4 separate regions of the Homo sapiens genome follow, and all the other regions are linked to region 2. Evidence: fine-mapped expression QTL. A gene starts in region 2. Each other region holds a variant in brackets. All regions are shown on one strand. Distances are from middle to middle.

Region 1 (5,150 bases), 54 kb before region 2:
TTCTGGACAGAAATAACAGGTAATTTAAAACTTTTTCTCCAATGGAATTTACAAAAACCATAAGGGCGTCATTCTTTTTTAAAATGTATTATATCCAACAATAAAACAATATATTTCTATGGTTCTTCATTAATTACTTTCAGTTGCAATACAGGTGGACTTAAGAAATTGAATCTTTAAACCAAGGATGATGAAACACTAAAGATAACATTTCTGTGGTCTAATTCTAAACCATGTCATAAAAATCAAAGAAATGTCTGTTAAGTGAGAATATAATTATTTGTCTATTTCTGTCACTGTTCAGATGAAAAAGTGAGAACATCTGCTTGCCTCATATTTGAGTTCTTCTTTCTTACCAACCCACTTAAAAATTTCTAATTTTTGGAGTTAAAACACCAACTGTTCTTTGTCTCTTTCAACAATGAAAATCCACAAATAAGAAAGTCTATCTAAAATGTATTTGCTTTTACCTTCTGATATCAATACCAGGGACCTGATTATACCTGACATTTATTAGAATTCGAAGTTCCAAAAACTAAAGTGAAATAAAAAGAGAATTTTTTTTATCTAACCACATATTCAGATATAAGCTGTAAGTAAAATGCACATATGTATTAGAAATTTAATTATAGCAAAATGATTAGTTAAAATGTTACATTTATCAGATTGCCAAAAAGCTAAAGTTGATTTTGGAGACAGAAGAACGGAAAAATTCCTCTCCTCAAATTTTATGTTATGTATATTTTACCACAATAAAAAAAAATGGAAAGTAATCCCTATCCTGCAGTTCAAAGATTTAGATTCTGGTTCTGACTACACGATCTTGGTAAAACCACAGGTTCCCAATCTGCAAAAAGAAGACACAGGGCCAGATTATATCTAATGTTCCCTGCAGCTTTGAAAAATTCCGTGATTTTATGACTTGGCAGTAGCATATGAAAACATATTTATGCTCAGTTATTAATAACTATTCAAAAGAAGAAGTTCTTATCTCTAGTAGGATTATGATACTGGATGCCTCTCATCTAAAACATGCTACAACTAGATGTGTACAGGCATAAAGCAAAGACCAAAGTGAAAAATAGTTAAGACTCAAGAAATATTTTAGTGACAAGAGTATCTCTGATTCTTTGGATTTTTTGTTGTTGGTGGTTTAACAGATGGAAGAGGTAACTCAAACTGTAATAAAGATATCGTCTAGAGATGCAGATGAAATATTTTATGGAACTAAAGTGAAAAACTGAATGAACTGACTGATAGGGGAAGCCACCTTAACTGGCAAGAAACAGCAGACATTCAAAAACAATTAGCTGATCCTTGTATTTAGTGATTCCAGAAAATAAATGCCTCCACCATAATGATTCTTTCTTCATGTGTGAGAGTGCTTTACTGACATGTTAAGTTTATATGAAGAAGACAGCAGTATTCCTATTGTGAATAACACTGTCATTACATTGCAGCACCTGTACTAAGTCTGATTTTATAGACTGATAATAATTCTCAGTAAACAGATTTGCATTCCTATCACAATTAGTATCTAAGATAAATTGTTTTTAAAAATGGCCACAACAATTTCCTCTTGGTATCTTCATCCTTACCTTACTCCCTCTCACAATGACTCTGGGCCTGGCTATCTAACCTGCTTTGGGCATTGAGACAATAGCAAATGTACAGCAAGAAGAGACTTAAAAATTCTTGTGTAGGCTGGGCATGGTGGCTCATGCTTGTAATCCCACCACTTTGGAGGCCAAGGTGGGTAGACTGCTTGAGCCCAGGAGTTCGAGACCAGCCTGGGCAACATAGCAAGACCTGGTCTCTACAAATAATAATTTTTTAAAAAAATTAGCTGGGTGTGGTGGCACGCACCTGTGGTCTCAAATATTTGGGAGGCTGAGGCAGGAGGATCACCTGAGCCCAGGAGGTCAAGGCTGCAGTGAGCTATGATCGCACAACTGTACTCCAGCCTGGGTAACAGAGCAAGACCCTGTCTCAAAAAAAAAAAAAGTCTTGTATATTTTACTATAATATAAATAAACCTGATTGAGCCTGCTAGATGGTGAAATACTACGTGGAGAGGCCCAAGTCAACAAATGTCTCAACAAATAAATCAGCCATCCCCAGCTGTTATTGCACCAGCTGACCACAGAGCAGAGCTAACCAGCTCAGACCAGAATTGCCTGCCTACCTGAGTCCAACCTAACTGCCAACTTACAGAATCATGAATCAAGTTAAATAAAATGGCTATTTTAAACCACTAAATTTTAGGGTGGTTTACAATGCAGCAAAAGCTAACTGACACAGTTTCAGTATCTCTATCTCACATAAACATAAACATAAACATAAACATAAACATACACACACACACACACACACACACACACGCATAAACATACACCCCTAAATCTGGAAAAAAGAGTTCTATTCTTTGGAAACTTAGGTTCAAATTTAACTAACATTCACTAAATACCTTCTACATTTCAGGCTTTCTACTAGGTGCTTTCACATAATGGTCTCATCCAAACTGCACATCCAAACTGCATGACCACCATATAAAGTAGAGGGGGAAAAGCCTTACACTTAATAGGCATCTATCAAGTGCCAGAAAATGTACTATATCACTTAATCCTCAAAGAGTCTTTTGAGATATATGTTATTTATTATGCCCCTTTTACAAGTGAGAAATTTGCAGATTTCTAAGCTAGTAACCAACAAGGATGGGACTTGAATGCCAAATGTCAGGTTTTAAGTTTAGTGATCTACATCTCATATTGTACAGTCTCTAAAATCAAAATAAAGATTCTTGACATGTTAGAACTGCCATTAAACTAAGTGCAGAAAGAGTGGGGAAATGTAATTTTCCCAGTAACCTTATCTTTGAACTTTTCTTTCAGCACCCGTTAGCTAGATAGATGATCAAGTGTGCTGGACAGCAGCTTGTCAGGTTGAAAAGTGTAAGAGAATCATTCCAAGCTGATTAAAGGCCATGCTGTCCCCCAGGGCTTC[A/G]GCTAGCTTGTGGGTTTTTTGTTTTAACTTGAGCTAGCATATTTTTTCAGATGTATCCCAAGAAATAAAGATGTTCAGCTGAATGATAATACAAGAAACCTAAAGCCGTAGAAAGAATGGACTGAAGAGAGAAATCAAGCCTTGAAAATACCACATCTTGCTCTGATTCTTTTATCTGATGCCGGAAATGCATGAATTCCTATGCTAAGACTGGCCTATTTTTCTTTGTAAGCAGCATTTGTCAAGCTAAATGAACAATCTGTCTAAGCCTACAGACAAAGCAGTGAATTCATAAGCAACTGTATCTTCCATTTATTTTTCTTTGAAAAATGCTACGTAAAAGCAGAAGGAATCAACAACCCAAATGTCTATCAGCTGATGAACAGATAAACAAAATGCAGTGTATCCATACAGTGGAATATTATTCAGCAACAAAAAGAAATAGTGATACATGCTATAACATGGATAAACCTCAAAAACATTATGCAAAATGAAAGACGCCATTCTCAAAAGGCCACATGTTATATGATTCCATTTACATAAACTGTCCAAAACAGGCAAATCTATAGAGACAGAAAGTAGATTAATGGTTGCCTGGGGGTGAGAGGCAAATGAGAAGTGACTGCTAACAGGATTAGAGTTTTTTGAGGGGATGATAAAAATGTCTTGAATTCAATAGTGCTTAAAGTTGCAACACCTTGTTAATATCCTAAAAAAACACTGAATTCTATGCTTTAAAATGGCAAATTTTATGACATATAAATTATATCTCAATTTAAAAATAGTGGCCAGGCATGGTGGCTCATGCCTGTAATTCCAGCACTTCAGGTGGCCAAGGCAGGAGGATGGCTTGAGGCCACGAGTTCGAGACTAGCCTGAGCAACATAGTGAGACCCTGTCTCTACAAAAATTTTTTTTTTAAATTAGCTGGGCATAGTGGTGCACACCTGTAGTCCCAACTATTCAGGAGGCTAAGGCAGAAGGATCACTTGAGCCCAGTTCAAGACTGCAGTAAGCTATGCTCATGCCACTGCACTTCAGCCTGGGCAACAGACCAAGATCCTGTCTCCAAATTAAAAAAAAAAAAAAAAAGTAGAACTTTAAAAATTAGATAGAATTTTAAAAATTAGATTGTGGTGATGGTTGCACAACTCTGTGAATAAACTAAAAACCATTAAACTGTACACTTTAAATGAACAAATTGTATGGTGTGTAAATTATATGTCAGTAACTCAATTTTTTTTAAGCAGCAAGACACCTTTCCTTAACTATTTGCTCTTATTTCTGGATTCATATGAACTACAACATAATGTCTAGGTAGTCATAACTGGGAAGGACCTTGACCAAAGACTGAAGCCCACTGTTCCATTGGAATGACCATCTACTAGACCTTAAACTTCATGACCTTCAATTTCAAACCTTCATTTTCCAGACTGTCACTAAGTAAACCAATATGGTCAACCTACTGTTTCCTTAATTCCTACAATGACTCTTTTCTACTTAAATTGTAATTAATTCTGTGCAAACCAGAGAACTGGGCAGAGCCTGATTTTTTTTCTCTGTTTCATGCATGAATGTTTGCAGGAAAAACAACAACAACAACAACAACAACAACTCTGGTAATCCTGCAAATGTTTTCCTCTGGCTTGGAATAGTATGCCTTAATGTGCAATTCTTATCACAGGGTTTGTTTTTTTCTAACATTTGTTATGAGTGTGTGGTTTTGGGTTTTGTTTTTGTTACCAGGCACCTAAGTGCTTTACATGTATCAGCTCATTTAATTACACTGGTTACTATCCAAGTAGCTGTGTACAGCCATAAATATTCCTTTGAATGTCCTTTGAAACCACTAAGAATTGCTGGAATCATAAGTTATAAGGTTCCCTGGAGCCCAGAATAACTCTTCCAGTTAAGCAGTTTCAGTAACTGCCTCTATATGAATGGACTTAATTTCTGGGCAATGGTGCTCTAGCTGTTTTAATTCTGGTGAACTGAAATATATAAATTCAAAGAGAGCTAAATCCAAAATTCAAAGGATTACTAACTAGAGCAATAGTGGCAGCACATCTAAAAAGATAAAAAATGTTCACAGGTGAGAATGGTCCACATCTTGGTTCTTGCAAGAATTTCCTAATTGGTCTCACCTT
Region 2 (5,150 bases):
CATGCCCTAATCCAGTATGACTGGTGTCCTTATAAGAGGAGATTAGGACACTGACAGGTACAGAAGGAAGAACATGGAGACACAGGGAGATGGCCATCTACGAGTCAAGCAAAGGCGTCAAAAGAAACAACTCTGACAATGCCTTGATTTCAGATCTCTAGCCTTCAGAACAGTGAGAGAATAAATTTACGTTGCTTAAACCACCCACTCCATGACACTTTGTCTTGTCCTGATAAACTGATACACGTGATAATAAAATTGATCTGCTTCAAATTAGGCAATCTACTAGTTACAATGAGCTGGGAATCACCAGCCACTTCAGAACCCAGTCCTGCAATGCTCTTCTCTTGTGCTTTTAATACATTTTTTAAAATCCAAAAGGTACAGGAATGAGCATGCCAAGAAACTTTAGTCCTTTGCTCAAGATTATGTAAGACAAGGCAAAGGGGGAAACAAAACTCAGATTCCTAATCCTCTTTTCAATTAAACCAAGGCCTCGGAGAAAGAAACCAAGAAGAACGAACGAACATAGTTCAGAAAGAAACATAACTAGTGTGCATTCATAATTGGATCACTATGGTACTATAGTAAATATCTGCTAACATACACAGAGACCTGTGAAACAGGGGTACTTTTAGAGAGGCATCAGAGTGAGGCAGTTAAGAGCATGGCCGGGCCCGGTGGCTCACGCCTGTAATCCCACCACTTTGAGAAGCCAAGGTGGGCGGATCACGAGGTCAGGAGATAGAGACCATCCTGGCTAACACGGTGAAACCCCGTCTCTACTAAAACTACAAAAAATTAGCCAGGCGTGGTGGCACGCACCTGTGGTCCCAGTTACACAGGAGGCTGAGGCAGGAGAATCGCTTGAACCCAGAAGGCGGAAGTAGCAGTGAGCCGAGATTGCGCCACTGCACTTCAGACTGGGCGACAGAGTGAGACTCCGTCTCAAAAAAAAAAAAAGAACATGGACTTTGGACCAGACCCCATAGACATTAAAATCCTAGCTCTGTCTCTTACTTGCTATGACTTCTCCCAGCAAATCACTACCCTCTGTATCTCAGTTTTATCATCTGTAAAACAGACATATAGGGATATCTACCACACAGGATTGTTGTGAGGTTCAAATGAGTTCAAATGAGGTTTTTATGGTTCAAAAATGGTCAAATATCAGCAATTTCATATGCTTCAGCAGGACACATGGAAAGCACTTAGAACAGTGCCTGGCACCCGGTAAGTGCAATATGAGTGTAATAATCATTACTATTACAGTCTCAGCACACTACGCTAGGGTGAATCCAAAGCCCATCCCAACCACCTATTTGCCTTCTGCAATGTTTGTGCACCTCAAACATCCCCAAGCTCAAACAACCCCTAAGAGTGCTGCCCAGGCAGTCAATCCCTTCTCTTCACCTCTTGGTTGCCCTGCACTTCCACACCCTGAACACTTCCTTCTTTAGAGCTCATTCTGCTGCAGGAAGTCAGACGTCTCTGTGAAATAGAAGTAACCACACTGAACCTCAGAGAAGCATGACTCCTTCGGTCTCTAGTCCCTACTTTTCTCCAGATGTGGTAGAGTGGCAAAAGACCCGGGATGTCCACAAGGGAAATCCAGGAGTTGAGATTTTCTAGGATCAGCCACCATCCTGATCTTGAACTAAAGCAATTCCAGGTACCACTAGGATTTGGTGCTGATATTCACAAAACAACTGAGGCCTGAAAAGGGCACAGACTGGCAGGGTTCAGTGACCCGGAGTAAAGAAGGAAACACTTCCCAACTACTCTGGACCTCAGTCTCCCCATCTCGAAAATATCCTCTTATTTCCTTACCTACCTCCCAATGTCAGGTTCTGAAGAGCTGAGGAGGATGTGAAGACCATTAGGAAGACACTGAACATCAGTAATAAAAGATGCCATCCTACAGTGGGGACACCACCAACAGCATCCTCTGAAATGCTACCCTCCACCATCCCCTCCCTTGCTAGACCCTCAACCTTTCCTCGCATGCTTTCAGCCTTAGGCGCAAAGCTTTTCCCCTCCACAGATCCCCCCACCGCACCCCTCAAGTGGGACTTCAGACCCTTAGAAAGTCCACCCGGCCTTCCTCTTGGCCAGTTCTCGATCCACCCCCTTAAAGAGATCCCTCACAGATTCTCACCCTGCTTCAGCATTCGCCCCCACCTCCGTGAGTCCCTGCTTGGATAGCGTTCCCCCGAGTGGCCCGGCCTCAGCAGGTACTCTCCCTAACTTGTCCCCACGTTCCTCAGCACAGTCTCACCACAGCGAGTGCTCCCTCTAACCGGTCCCAAGTCTAACCTCCTTAGCAGATGCTCCCCTCAGCCGGACCCTCACCCACCAGACGTCCCCCCCCTCACTCAGCAGGTGCCCCATCGGCTGGGTCGCTTAGCTCCGGGGACTCCCACACAGGTGTATCCCCTCAACCAGTTCCCGCCTTTTCTTCCCCTGACCCCATGCCCGTCCTCTTAGCCAGTGGCCCCTCACCGGCGCGGCGGGTTCCTCAGCTGTACCGTCTCCATGGCGCTGCCAGCAGCCGCCCAGACCCGCTCACTGCTCCATCCTCCCGCGGACCTCCTGAGCCCGCCCCGCAGACCCTCCCACACTTCCGCTTTCCGCCCCTACCGGAAGCGGCGCGCGGCGCGGGAGCGGGGCGGAGCCACGGCCCTGATCACGTGGTTCGGGCGTGAGTCTTGTGGCGCGGTGGGGCGCGGACCCGGAACCGCCAAGTGGTGAAGGCGCCTCCAGGCGGTGCCCGCTGGTCTCTAGAGTGTCAGTGGCGCTGTCTTCCTGCGTTACCGGAGCGCACAAAATACTCGGTCCCCAGGCCGAGAACGCACCTCTACCTGGGTCCTGGGTCCCATTTCACAGACTGAGATGCGTGAAGCGCCTCCTTTAGAAGAGCTGACAATTCTTAGCAAACCAAGTTTTGCGTGATTTTGGGGAGGCGGCGCTGCCCCAGGAACGCCTGGAGGTATTTGTGGTTTTCTGCCGCTTACCTGGTTGAACTCTGGTCCCAACGGGCCCCCTGCACATTTTCTCCTACAATGCATCAACGCGCAAATTGCCCCACTGTCTTTCTTAAAGGCCTCCCCTTTAAGTCAGTTTGCAGACATAAAAATAAGCAACATTAATTAAGCATTTGCCGTGTACTTGTCTTCATATATTATCTCATTTAATCCCCTGTGTCAAGCCGATAAGGTCATCCCCGTTTTTATTTATTTAATGATTTAACACAGTCCCTAAACGTTTTCAGTGCTTTACCTCATTTAATACTCCTAACAACCTAGACGGTATTATTATTATTCCTACTTCATAAGGCCAGAGAGGTGAAGTATCTAGCCCAAGGTCACATAGCTTAGAGTATAGGTTTGGGGATTTAAATCCAGTTTGGTCTGATTTCAGGGCCTGCACCACCAAACTGGACAGCCATGGGTGTGTAACCTCTTTTTGGGCCTGAGAAACAGACCTTTCTCTCCACTCAGAGCTCCGGCTTCAGCTATTGTGCTTCCGAATGCCACTACCATCAGTAAGTATTAGGAAAATGGCAGATTCTACCCAATTGACCCATGGGGAAAGTTATAGGAGAAAACTTAACCAGAGCAACCTCTCACTGTTTTTAATTGCCTTGCTTTTCCCAAGGATATGCCATCTACAGAACTTAACACCTGAGCACCCACCCTTCAGGGCCACCCATGGGCCCAAAACGGGATAAAGGAGCCATTCCCTGACATAGGAGGAAAACATTTGCTGAGAAGCTACTGTGTGCCAGACACAATCTTGGACTTTCACTTAATCCTCAAAACAGCCCTAGGAAGAAGTACCTACCGTTAACAGATAAGAAAGCTGAGACCCACGGTTTACACAGCTAAGGAGAGCAAAGGTTTTAACCCAGGACTGTCCTGACTCCACAACATCAAAGTTGTTGTTTTGTTTTTGGTGTTTTGTAGAAACAGGATCTCCCTATTATTACCCAGGCTGGTCTCAAACTCCTGGGCTGCAGCAGTCCTCCCACCTCGGCCTCCCAGAGTGCTGGGATTACAGGCAAGAGCCACCACACCTGGCTGATGAATAGGAATTGGGTAAACATTTTTGAAAATTAAATACCAAATTACCATTACACAATGCCAAACAGACCTCCTTTGTCCCCTTCCCAGGATTTTTCCAGAAGATGGACTCACATTATGATGGCCCCCTTTTTCCGCAGAGTGTTCCCAATGAAAATTTCTGAAATGATGGGAATGTTCTAAATATGTGCTGTCCGAAATAGTAACCATTAGCCACATATGGCTATTGAGCACTTTAAATGTGGCTAGCATAACTGAAAGGCCACATTTTTATTTAAATTTAAATTTAAATAGCAAACCGTGGCTAATCATAATAATAGCTTAAGAGAGAAATGGTGAGCAGGGTTACTGGGAGAGGTATTTTCCTATAAGCTCTGGATATACAGTTGACCTGGGAACAACAAGGGTTTGAGCTGCATGGGTCCACCAATACAACCCTTGTTTTGTTTTGTTTTGTTTTCAATAAATACAGTCAGCCCTCTCTATCAGAGGGTTCCACATCCACAATGAAACATGGTTGGAAAATACAGTATGGGATGTGAAACCTGTGTATAGGGTGGGCTGACTTTTCGTTTCCATAGGTTCTGCAGGGTCAACTATAGTACATGAGTATACTCACATTTTAGTATCCTAATAGATCCTCAAACCAACACCTGGCAGAAAATGGGGAACAATTGCATAACAGTATTCAAGGGACTGGGTATGATGGCTTGCACCTGTAATCCCAGCACTTTTGGAGGCCAAGGCAGAACAGGAGTTCGAGACCAGCCTGGGCAATATGGTGAAACCCCTTTTCTACAAAAAACTTAGCCAAGCATGGCATATTTGTGTAATGCCATTTGCATGACCCACATGGTCACCCTGGACCCCGTGGATCAGGCCCTGCCTGGTGCCACCACCGCCACTTCTGTGCCAGGCCCCCAGTGTGATGCAAGTTGCATGATGCTCTTTGCTGTAGTGCCTTTTAATGGCATAGCTTTGGCAGGTTTGGAGATGTTCAGAATAGGCAAATCCTGTGGTGGATTTGTGGTTGTCTAAGGCCCTGGTGGAAGGGAGCATAGGTGAATT
Region 3 (5,150 bases), 87 kb before region 2:
TCAGCAATAAAAAGGAACAAACTCCAGACATATGCAACAAATGAACAAATCTCAGAACAGTATGCTAAGTGAATGAGGCCAAACACAAAAGGCTATATACTGCACAATTCCATTCATCTGACATCCCAGAAAAGACAAAACTTTAGGGACAAAAAACAGGGCATAAGGGAACTTGATGGGATATTAGAAATGTTCTATAGCTTGATTATGGTGGTATTTATACAACTGTATATTTCTATTAAAACTCATCCAACTGTACACTTAAAAGGAGCATGTTCTATAGCATATAAATTAAACCTCAACAAATCTGACTTTACAAAAATATTACATAGCAAAAAATTGTGGCAGGTAGTTGAAATAGTATTTAAAGGAAATTTTACAGCCTTAAATGTATGTTAGAAAAGAAAGATAATTGGGCCCGGCGCGGGGGCTCACGCTGGTAATCCCAACACTTTAAGAGGCCGAGGCAGGCAGATCATGAGGTCAGGAGTTCCAGACCAGCCTGGCCAACATGGTGAAACCCCGTCTCTCCTAAAAATACAAAAATTAGCCAGGCATGGTGGTGTGCACCTCTAGTCCCAGCTACTCGGGAGGCTGAGACAGGAGAATTGCTTGAACCTGGGAGGCAAAGATTGCAGTGAGCCAAGATCATGCCACTGCACTCCAGCCTGGGCAACAGTGCAAGACTCCGTCTCGGGGAAAAAGAAAACAAAAAAAAAAGAAAGAAAGAAAGAAAAAGAAAAGAAAGATAATTAAAAATTAGTAAGCTGAATTGTCCAAGTGAAGAAAAGAGAAATAAACCCATAGAAAGCAGAAAGAAGAAAATGATGTAAGAACATAAATTAATGAATTCAAAAGTTAATGTGCAGTAGCAAGGATCAACAAAACCAAAAGCTGGTTTGGGCTTAAAAAAAAAATTACACTTTGATAAGACTGATCCCCACCCCCCGGAAAAAAAAGAAGAAACAAATAACAGGAATGAAAAGCAAGCTATAAATACAGATACTGCAAATTTTAAAATCTGAAACTTGATGCCAATAAATTTTTAAATGTGCATGAAATTAAGATGTCTTGGGAAGCGGCAGAGACCTACATCTGGAGTGAAACCAAACAAAACTGACTACTAAGAAATCTAGACCACAAGGACAAAGTGGAATGAGTAGATTGTTAAAAACACATACTCAAATGACAGAGCCACAGAGGATGAAACCATCTCTGAAAATAGAGACAACCATGATATTTCTGAATATACGTGTTTTCCCTAAAGGCAGGAAAATGAGAAAAAATAAGTTAACGCCCAACCTCCAGTTCTGACAACACGGCAGAGTAACAAGGTCACTCCTGAAACCTCCCCATGTAAGAGAAGCAGGGATATCCAGGGGCCAGAGAAATTGTGTACATGCCCATCCCCACCCCTTCTTTTGATGCTTATATTGCTATTCTTGGTAAATCAGGTGAAAATGAATACCAAGGGTAGTCCTATGGAGAGAAGAAATCACAAGGACAGGTGGGAGAGAAGGTTAAGCTCTGCCTGTATTGCCTTAATGAGAGGGCAGATTCAGGGACCTTGTTGGACAGTGATTACAGGAATAGTAACAATAGCAATAATAAAAGCCAGAATTTTTTAAGCATTAACTGTTCATTATTAGCAGCCATACATTAAGTATTTTATATGTATTAATCTCATTTGCTCTTCATTAAATCTTACAGCTATAATTATTAACCCAGTGCTACAGATGGGGAATTTGAGGTTTGAAGAATTATATAATCCATTGAGGTTAACACAGCCCGCAAGTGGTTGAAATCAAAATTGAATCAGGTTCTGTCTGACTCTGGGGTCTGTACTTTTTCCTTTTTTTTTTTTTTTGAAAAAAAAAAAAAAAAAAGATAGGGTGTCCCACTGTTGCCCAGGCTAGAGTGCA[G/A]TGGTGCAATCATAGCTTACTGCAGCCTCAAACTCCGGGTTCAAGTGATCCTCCTGCCTCAGCCTCTTGAGTAGCAGGACTACAGGTGGGCACCACCATGCCTGGCTAATTTTTTAATTTTTTGTAGAGACAAGGTCTAGCTACATTGGTCAGGCTGGTCTCAAACTCCTGGGCTCGAGGGATCCTCCCGCTTTGGCCTCTCAAAGTGCTAGGATTACAGATGTGAGCCCCGCACCTGGCCAGGAGTCTGCACTTTTAATGAAATGTCACCCAACATCTACTACTATTGGCTAAGTGCTTTCACACTCATTTTCTCAGCTAAACAGAGAGAGAATGAAGCACGGACAGCAGTAAAGCCTATATGCGGGGCAGCATTAGCATACAGAGAACCCACGATTTAGTCACTTGCCTTGGTAACAATGAACTGGCAAATTTTCCTAAACCCAAGTTACCATAGTACTAAGTAGTTAGGGGAAAGAGATGGTGGCTTTCTCTATCTGCAAAACGGAAAATCCAGACAATCCCAACTAACTTTTGCTAAAGTTCCTGTGAGAAGTAATCAAAATTTCATGGATAGAGGTTCCCTGGGGACAAATTTTGGCTGAAAAAAAAAACAAAAAACAAAAAAAAACTACTATCTTTACACACAGCTTTGAGCAATGATTTGAACTACTTCCAACTTGTGGAATTCCCTCTTCTCAGAAATGACTGCAGGTAGTCAAGCAAATGTGAGATGATGCCTCTTGTTGGAAATATAGCAAGAGCTGGAAAATATGTCCTTTAAGACCCTTTTCAATTCTGAAAGTTTATCATTCTCTGATACAGTGTTGGAACAGATGATTGAGAGAGACAATGGCTTCTAGGAATTCAAGACATGCCCATCTGTCACCTGTGCTTACAGTGAAGCCACACAGAAGTTAACTATGGAACAGTCCTTCCTAGGGCCTAAGGTGCTAGGATACTTATTGCAGTTCTTAGGCTCCATTTCTGAGCCAGTCTGGACTCAGCTCTTTTTCTCACCATGTAGTTGAGATTAAAATTATCCTGTAGTTTAATATCAGAGAATAAATGGCCACAAGAATGAACGCTAAAGAAGAAGCCTGCCAAGCAGCCATGGATCAAGCAGTCTCCGAACCAAACAAAGGAAATGAAAAACAGTCTCAGGCTCACACAGGCTGATACTGTTTTAAGCAACCTCTTGAGGTCAAAAACCGCAGGCATTTAAGTCCTGCTCTCAAAGCCATTTCAATAACTGAGTTAAAAACCCAGCTCAAATCAGCTAGCACGATCCACCAGCAGAACCAGGCTACTGTGGTTCTGAGACAAAGATGACATTCATTTACCATGTGGTTTCTCAGAAAGCGTATCTACACAGCAGGTTTCCCTGGCAATTTTGGATACATATGTCTTTTCCAGACTGCTGTTCTTGGCTAGTTTTCTGAAAGAAAAGAGCACAAAATCTCATTATATTCCAAAGCACAAATAAATTCAGTCTCAACATACTTTAAACCAAGCTTTACAGGAAAAATAAGAAGTTGAAACAAAAATAGTGTACCCTGTCAAGAACAATTTAGGATAGTCTTCTCACCAGAAACTGCTCGACAGGACTACTTCAGTAAAAAGCCATTAACAGGCAGTGCTGTTGACCTTGGCTAGCTACTGGGCATTCACATGGCACTGCCGGGTCAGAAACCTAAACACCAAACATAGTCTCCATTCATCTTTCTTCTAGCACAGAAGAAAAGAAACTCATCAGAAAAAGTTTAAAAAGCAGAGCATGGAGATTGTCCAGAAAGGTGGTGGCAAGAGTCTGAGAGCGCAGGTGCTGATGGTTAAAACCCCAGCTTAATTCACACACTCAACAGGCAAAAAAATGCAACAATAAAAACAATCACAAAGACTCAATCCCCAAACCTCCTGTTGACAAGAAAAAAGCCTGGCTTAATATATTAGAACGACCTGAAAACAACCCAACTCCAACCAAAAAAGCCCCAAATGTTAAATGCCAAGTAAAAAGAGGATGATTAAATCAATCAAAAGAATGTAATGTGATGGGCTACTATGTGACCCTTAAAAATGATTTCACAAGTGTTTTTAATGATATGAGAAAATGTTTAAGATATGTTAAGTGAAAAAAAATCAAGATTTATTATGCATGCAGAATGATCTCAGCTGTGTAAAATAATATCTAAGTATTAAAAAACTGGAAGGAAATGTTAAAATGTAATTATTATTGCTGGGGGGGGTGGAAGAGTTGTAAGAGACATTTTCTTCTTTAAGCTTTTCTTCAGTCTCTAAACTTTCTATAATGAGTGTGTTTTTACAACTAGAAGGTTAACAAAATAGCATTGTAACATTATAGAAGAGCAAACCAACACCAAAAAAGAAGAAAATAATAACATTTATTAAGTGCTTATTGCAGGCCAGCAGTAAGGACCATTGTCCTAAAGGTGCTTTACGTGCATTACAGGTTTAGTATCCCTTATCCAAGATGCCTGGGACCAGAAGTGTTTTGGATTTTGGATTTTTGGATTTGGGATTACGCAACCTGCATCTCATTTGATACTCACGACAGCCCTATGAAAGAGGTATGACTTTACCATGTTTGACAGATAAGACAATCAAGGGTTAGACAGGTGGCATAATAGGTGGAGAAGATAGGCTATGAGCCCTAACAGAATAACTCCAGTGGTTTTAACCACTATATGCCTCTCAACCACAATGGCATAATCTGTCTCCCTGCCTGCAAGCCTGACCTAAACATAAGCCTCAATGACAAAATCTACTTTAGAAGGCACTATAATAATTTAGGATAGTGTGACTGCCAAGGTACTAAGATACTCAGATAAATATTCAAAAGAGGAACTAAAACACCTCTAATGAAGCTATAAAAAGAATCCATGTGATAGAGCAATGCATCGCTGCAGTTGAAAACATACCAGCACAACAAATCAACCCACAGCTAAATCCCACTATACAAGAGAAGCTAGTAATAACTGTCAAAGAAAGACCCCTGGTAACCACTTATTGAACTACCATGAAAAAAGGAACTCACTAAAAGATACAATAACAATGAGCTAGACAGTAAGGATTTGAATTTGTCTCCCAAAAAGCCCCCTAGCAACAAGAGGCCTGGACCATCAAAGGCTAGAGAAAAGAAAGAAACTAAAGAGAAAAATAAAAAGCATTGTACTTGATGCCAAATTATATAAAATACAACCAGCACAG
Region 4 (5,150 bases), 110 kb before region 2:
TCCACTCATCCATGCATCCTCCTACCCTTCCTCTTCCCCGTCAAACATTCATCCATCCAATTGGTGGCTTGGGGAAAGGGACAAAAAGGGGAAAAAAAAAAAAAAAGGAAAGTGCTTCAAAATTACTGATGGAGCAATTAAAACAGTCTTAAAGAATTCTGAGATTTTTGGCCAGGCAAGGTGGCTCACGCCTGTAATCCCAGCACTTTGGGAGGCCGAGGCGGGTGGATCACAAGGTCAGGAGTTCAAGACCCACCTGGCTAATATGGTGAAACCCTGTCTCTACTAAAAATACAAAAATTAGCCGGGCGTGGTGGTGCAGCACCTGTAGTGGCAGCTACCTGGGAGGCTGAGGCAGGAGAATTGCTTGAACCTGGGAGGCGGAGGTTGCAGTGAGCCGAGATGGCGCCACTGCACTCCAGCCTGGGCAACAGAGTGAGACTCTGTCTCAAAAAAAAAAAAAAACACAAACAAAAAAAGAATTCTGAGATTTTTTTTTTTAAAGACAGAATCAGGTCATTGTTTCTTGAAGGCAGAGAACAAGCGAGGACCTCAAATTTCTCTGGAAGCTCGAGTTCCAAATGCTCAAGCAATAACAGAAGCCCAAGGCTCATTGAAAGCAAGCTGACATATCTTAAATTTAGTATTCAACAACAACAACAACAACTAGGACTTGTTCCTTTGCCTTTCTGTCACTAGAAAACAAATATACCTTGTCAGGAAATTTCTCTGATCCAAAACAAATTGACTTCTGGCCAAAAGGCTTCATCAAGCTAGACTGGTAAGCAATAGACTTTGTTGGATCAGCAAGCTGGGTGCACACATTCCTGAAACAAAACAAACTCCAGATCAAAGTTCATGACCCAAGAATAGTTATGGGGGAAAACTGAACTTTCTTTTATTTGGATCTAGCTTAGGAAGGGAGAAAATGGGCTTTCTCCTCCTCTCTGGCCAAGTGCAAAGTTCTTTGTTTAAAAAAGAAAGAGAGGCCAGGAGCGGTGGCTCATGCCTGTAATCCCAGCAGTGTGGGAGGCTGAGGCGGGTGGATCACCTGAGGTCAGGAGTTCAAGACCAGCCTGACTGACATGGTGAAACCCCGTCTCTACTACAAATACAAAAAAATAATCTGGGCATGGTGGCATATGCTGTAATCCCAGCAGAAGAATCGCTTGAACCCGGGAGGCGGAGGTTGCAGTGAGCCAAGATCGTGCCATTGTACTCCAGCCTGGGCGACAAGAGCGAAAATCCATCTCAAAGAATAAAAAGAAAAAAGAAAGAGAGAGAGAGACAGAACTATTAATTCGCACAGCAAATGGTGCAGGGGTGTGCATCCTGGATGCTTTGGTTTTTAAAACTTACTTGGCTATCAGACTTAACTACTAATTCAGCTGTCTTTCCAACCTAAAAATGCCAGTTCGAGTTATTTAGTCTATGCAAGAAAAGGTGGTCACTTCATTTTAAACAGGCTTGTGACTTTCCTTTTTTGTGTAAATATTGACCCCCTATAGTGATGCTATGAATCCTGATTCTATCATTTACTAGCTGCATGACCTTGGGAAGGAATCTTTCTCTCTGAACTTATTTCTTCAACTACAAAATGGAGATAAAGTAGTTAAGTCACAGGGTTATTGTGAAGTTTAGAGCCTACCCAGCTCAGTGCCTGATATATAATAGGTGCTCAACAAATGGTAGCTGTCATTTATTATTCCAGCAAGATCCTCAAATTGTCCTCTGTTTTCCGTATCCGCCACATAGCTATTTCAGTTGCCAAGCCCTGAAGACTAACAACTGCCTCTTGCATTTTTTAAAAACTTGCTTTAATTGCAAATAACAGAATCTGGCCACAGAAGAGGCACATTCCCTGCCTTTCCATTGATTCCCAGGTTTCAGGAGCAAAAGCAATTATGGAGTCAAATTACAGTATCCTGAGGTGCAACCCAGTCATGGCTCCCCATCTGAGGGAAAGAGGTAAAGTTGCAGGAAGATGGCTCTATGCTGTCTTTTGCAAAGCCCTCTGATCTGCTTCAGGCCCGAAACCTGCCTCCATGGGTGCTTGTCTGCTATATCTGGTAGATGTTGTGGAGCTCAAGGACTCGCTGAAACTGAATGATCTGGCTCGTCCAGGGAATCTCTTTACAGCCAGGTCATCTACTGAAGAGCCAAGGCAAGAGCAAGTTTCTGTTAGCAAGGTTCCCTGGAACAATTAACCAAGACTGACACAGGTCTCTTCCCCCAAAGAAGGGGCTGCATGGTTCGGTGGCCTGGGAGTGAGGACCCTGAATTCTAGTCTCAGCTCTTAACGCTAACTTGCTTTGTGATTTTGGCCATTCCCCTCTCTACACCTCAGTTTTGCGATCATCCGTACAAGAGG[A/G]TCAGATCAGATGATCTCTATAGTCCCTTCCAGCTCTGACATTCTGTGTGTTCAGATTGAGCCTCCTGGAAAACAAATCTTAGTCTAATATTCATTTATCCTTTCCAGGCTGCTTAGCAGTAAAAGAGAAAAGAAAACAGTCACATATTTGAACGTGGGTCACAAAAGCAATCCCCTCTACCCCTGTGTGTAAGGAATGTGGAGCAACATGCCACGTGTATGATTTTTACATGAACAATGAGAGCTTCAAAAACGCTTTTCCTTTGTGGACTGAACACAGTCCCGTGTTTGCTGAGAGTCCCTGGTAGAGATCATGTCTCCTCTTAAGGCACTGGGCAGTATCTGTGCTGTGACTTTAGGCAGTTGAGAGAGTGGAGATGGATGAAAGGCATTGAAAGAGCAAAGGCCAATTTGCAAAGAGGGTGCCAGGCTTCTCCTGGGACTCAAAGAGTAAACATAAACTCTCAAAGCTTTCCCTTGGACATCACCAATAGCTCCAGAAGCCAGTGATGACCACACAAGGCTGAAACCACGGTACAAGAACTGTCCCAAACCTAATTTTTAAATGCAGCCCTGCAAAGGGGGAGGTTGGCTCCTGGGATTCAGTGACCCCCTAACAGCCTCCCGGTGTCCTCTGCCCTCATGTTCCACAGTACCATAATCTTACAGAAAAGAGGCAAACCGTTTAAAACTGTACCTGTACAGAGATGCCACCACACTGCGTGGGGAATCTATTTATAATTTATATATATATATGCATATTTATATTTTTTTAAAAGTCTTCCAGAAAGAACAATTGAAAGCTATTGGGAGAAGAAAAACAGACAATGTAAAACTTTCCCAGCTATCACTCAACTAGGAGTCTCTGTTCCTGGGGTTTAAAACTCTGAGTTAAAAGCGCCAATATAAATCCTTTGAGATAATATACCTGACCAATGTACATACACACATCAAGATGGCACGCTGACTGTCAAGAGAGCCCTTCCCACTGGCGCACATTCCTGAGTTCACAAAGGTGCTGTGGAGAGACGACAGAGCAGAAGTGCTGGCTAACAAACATGAGGCAAGCCATCCAGAATTCACCCAAAGCCTGGGTGGAGCTGGGGCCCTCACAGCCTGGCCTTGCTCAGAAGTTTTGTTGCCGTCTCTTCTTAGCCTCTATGGCATCCAGGATGGGCTGCCGCTTGGACTGGTACTTCTGCCGGATCTCTTCAATCTCCTGCTCCATCATGGGGTCCAGGGCCAAGAGCCTCTTCTGAAGGTCCTCCACTGTCCAACTCTTAAGCTAGAAGAGAAGTGGAAGGTATAGTCACGACAAAGCTTAAGTCAGTGGCAGAACAGTGCAGAAGCCCAGCCTTCCCAGGCACCCAGAGGGAAGGGAGACAGGAGGAAGACACTGTGGTCAGATCACAGGTTGAGTGGTGGTGGTTGGAAAGTGACAATTCATTCCAAAGCATGGCATACCTTGAAGCTTGTCTGAGATAATTTATCCCTGGAAGAGATCTAAGTGCTAACCGCTTTGATTTAATGTGCCTTGACCAAGAACTTAGTGAATAATACTCTCACCTCCCCTATCTTTTAAGTTAATTAAATATAGATTCATTGTTAGGGCATTAAAATAACAGTAACTTGCTGTATGTGAAATAATGGTTGCCTCCCCGTTCTTGTTCTGTCTACGAGATAAGCGTCTATCTGGACAGCGCCTTTCCCACTTTCAGGATACGACACCATGGAGGATCGATGCTGATGAGGCGCAGATGCCATCCCCTAACCCTGCCTTCCCACACCCCCAATGTCTTGGCACTGCCCTATTATCATCACCAGCATTTACTTGAGGCTACTATATACCAGGTAACAGTCTAAGCCCCTTGGGAATACAGACGCAACCCTTGGCAGGGGTTGGGGTAAGGGTGGGTAGTTAGAAAAACCTCAAACTTCTGAGATTAAGTTTCTATCATCCAAAGAAAAACAATGAGTTGATATATAAATTAATAATAATGGCTGGCATTTAGTGTTTTCTATGCACCAGACACTGAGTGCTTTACATATATGGATTCCTTTAATCCTCAGAGCAACCCATGCTACAAGGACATTATTATCCCTATGTTACAGATGAACAGCCCAAGGAGGAGGGTAGCTAAGTAACCTGCCCAATGTCTCCCAACTAGTAAGTGGCAGAATCAAGACTCAAACCCAGGCAGCATGGCTCTAGAGTCTATGCTCTTAACCAGTGTTGCAGAACAGAAGACTAGCAAAGCACAGGTTTTAGAAGTAACTCAACCTTTGTTTAAAATGTGGTTCTGCCTGTTGCAGATGCCATGAGACTCTGTCAAGTTACCAATCTCTCCAGGCCTTCCCCATCTACAGAAGTCAGACAGCAGTGTCTCATCACATGTATTGTAAGAATTAAATAAGATCACGGCTGTAAAGTTCTCAGCACAGTACCTGCTGCACTGTGTGTGTAAAGATGGCAATGGGTGTTATAAGCCTCTCTCTTCATAAAAGCCCAGGGATACACCAGTGTTCAACCTGTGTCTGCAGCTATGGGGCAAGGGACTCTGCTGCCATGTGTGTTCAGTGATTCCAAGCCTGGCCAATATTGGCTGTCAGGGGTGGGAATGAATGCTGACATTATCCACAGTGGGTGGTGATACTTTATTCTGTGTGCTCACAACCAGTTTAATAGGTACAGTGTTTCAAGAACTCAAAGTCTTACAAGAGGTCTGTTGTGCCCACATTTAGAAAATCATGATCCTCGGCCCTTTCCTGAGGTCTCCAC

Direction of the effects. Positions count from the first base shown, and alleles are read on the strand shown. Sizes are in standard deviations (SD) of each study's normalised expression. Not every link is listed here.
In carriers of allele G in region 1, the expression in fibroblasts of the gene that starts at base 2,594 in region 2 tends to be higher than with A alone (small effect, 0.18 SD a copy in GTEx).

The links. PIP is the estimated chance that this variant, and not a neighbour inherited with it, causes the effect.
Region 1: its variant is the best candidate, but not a certain one, in a credible set for the expression of STK4 in fibroblasts (GTEx, PIP 0.78).
Region 3: its variant is the best candidate, but not a certain one, in a credible set for the expression of STK4 in whole blood (TOPMed, PIP 0.54).
Region 4: its variant is the best candidate, but not a certain one, in a credible set for the expression of STK4 in blood mononuclear cells (TOPMed, PIP 0.67).

Annotation. Positions count from the first base shown.
Region 1 is chr20:45,017,671-45,022,820 of GRCh38, reverse strand. All of the region lies in intron 9 of STK4 (serine/threonine kinase 4), which reads right to left. Among named protein-coding and RNA genes, the nearest start is that of STK4, 54 kb to the right of the region's middle. The variant A/G (reference allele first, on the strand shown) is at 3,004.
Region 2 is chr20:44,963,956-44,969,105 of GRCh38, reverse strand. STK4 (serine/threonine kinase 4) reads right to left here and starts at 2,594. Exons shown (of 11, transcript NM_006282.5): 1 at 2,503-2,594. The coding sequence starts at 2,537. It overlaps STK4-DT (STK4 divergent transcript), which reads left to right and starts at 2,648. Exons shown (of 3, transcript NR_038341.1): 1 at 2,648-2,989; 2 at 3,421-3,544; 3 at 3,658-5,150. RefSeq lists silencers at 710-839, 2,520-2,769 and an enhancer at 1,300-1,379.
Region 3 is chr20:45,051,296-45,056,445 of GRCh38, reverse strand. The region is part of intron 10 of STK4 (serine/threonine kinase 4); the gene reads right to left. Among named protein-coding and RNA genes, the nearest start is that of KCNS1, 47 kb to the left of the region's middle. RefSeq lists a silencer at 4,547-4,616. The variant G/A (reference allele first, on the strand shown) is at 1,923.
Region 4 is chr20:45,073,524-45,078,673 of GRCh38, reverse strand. STK4 (serine/threonine kinase 4) reads right to left here. Exons shown (of 11, transcript NM_006282.5): 11 at 1-3,656. The coding sequence ends at 3,498. Among named protein-coding and RNA genes, the nearest start is that of KCNS1, 25 kb to the left of the region's middle. The variant A/G (reference allele first, on the strand shown) is at 2,372.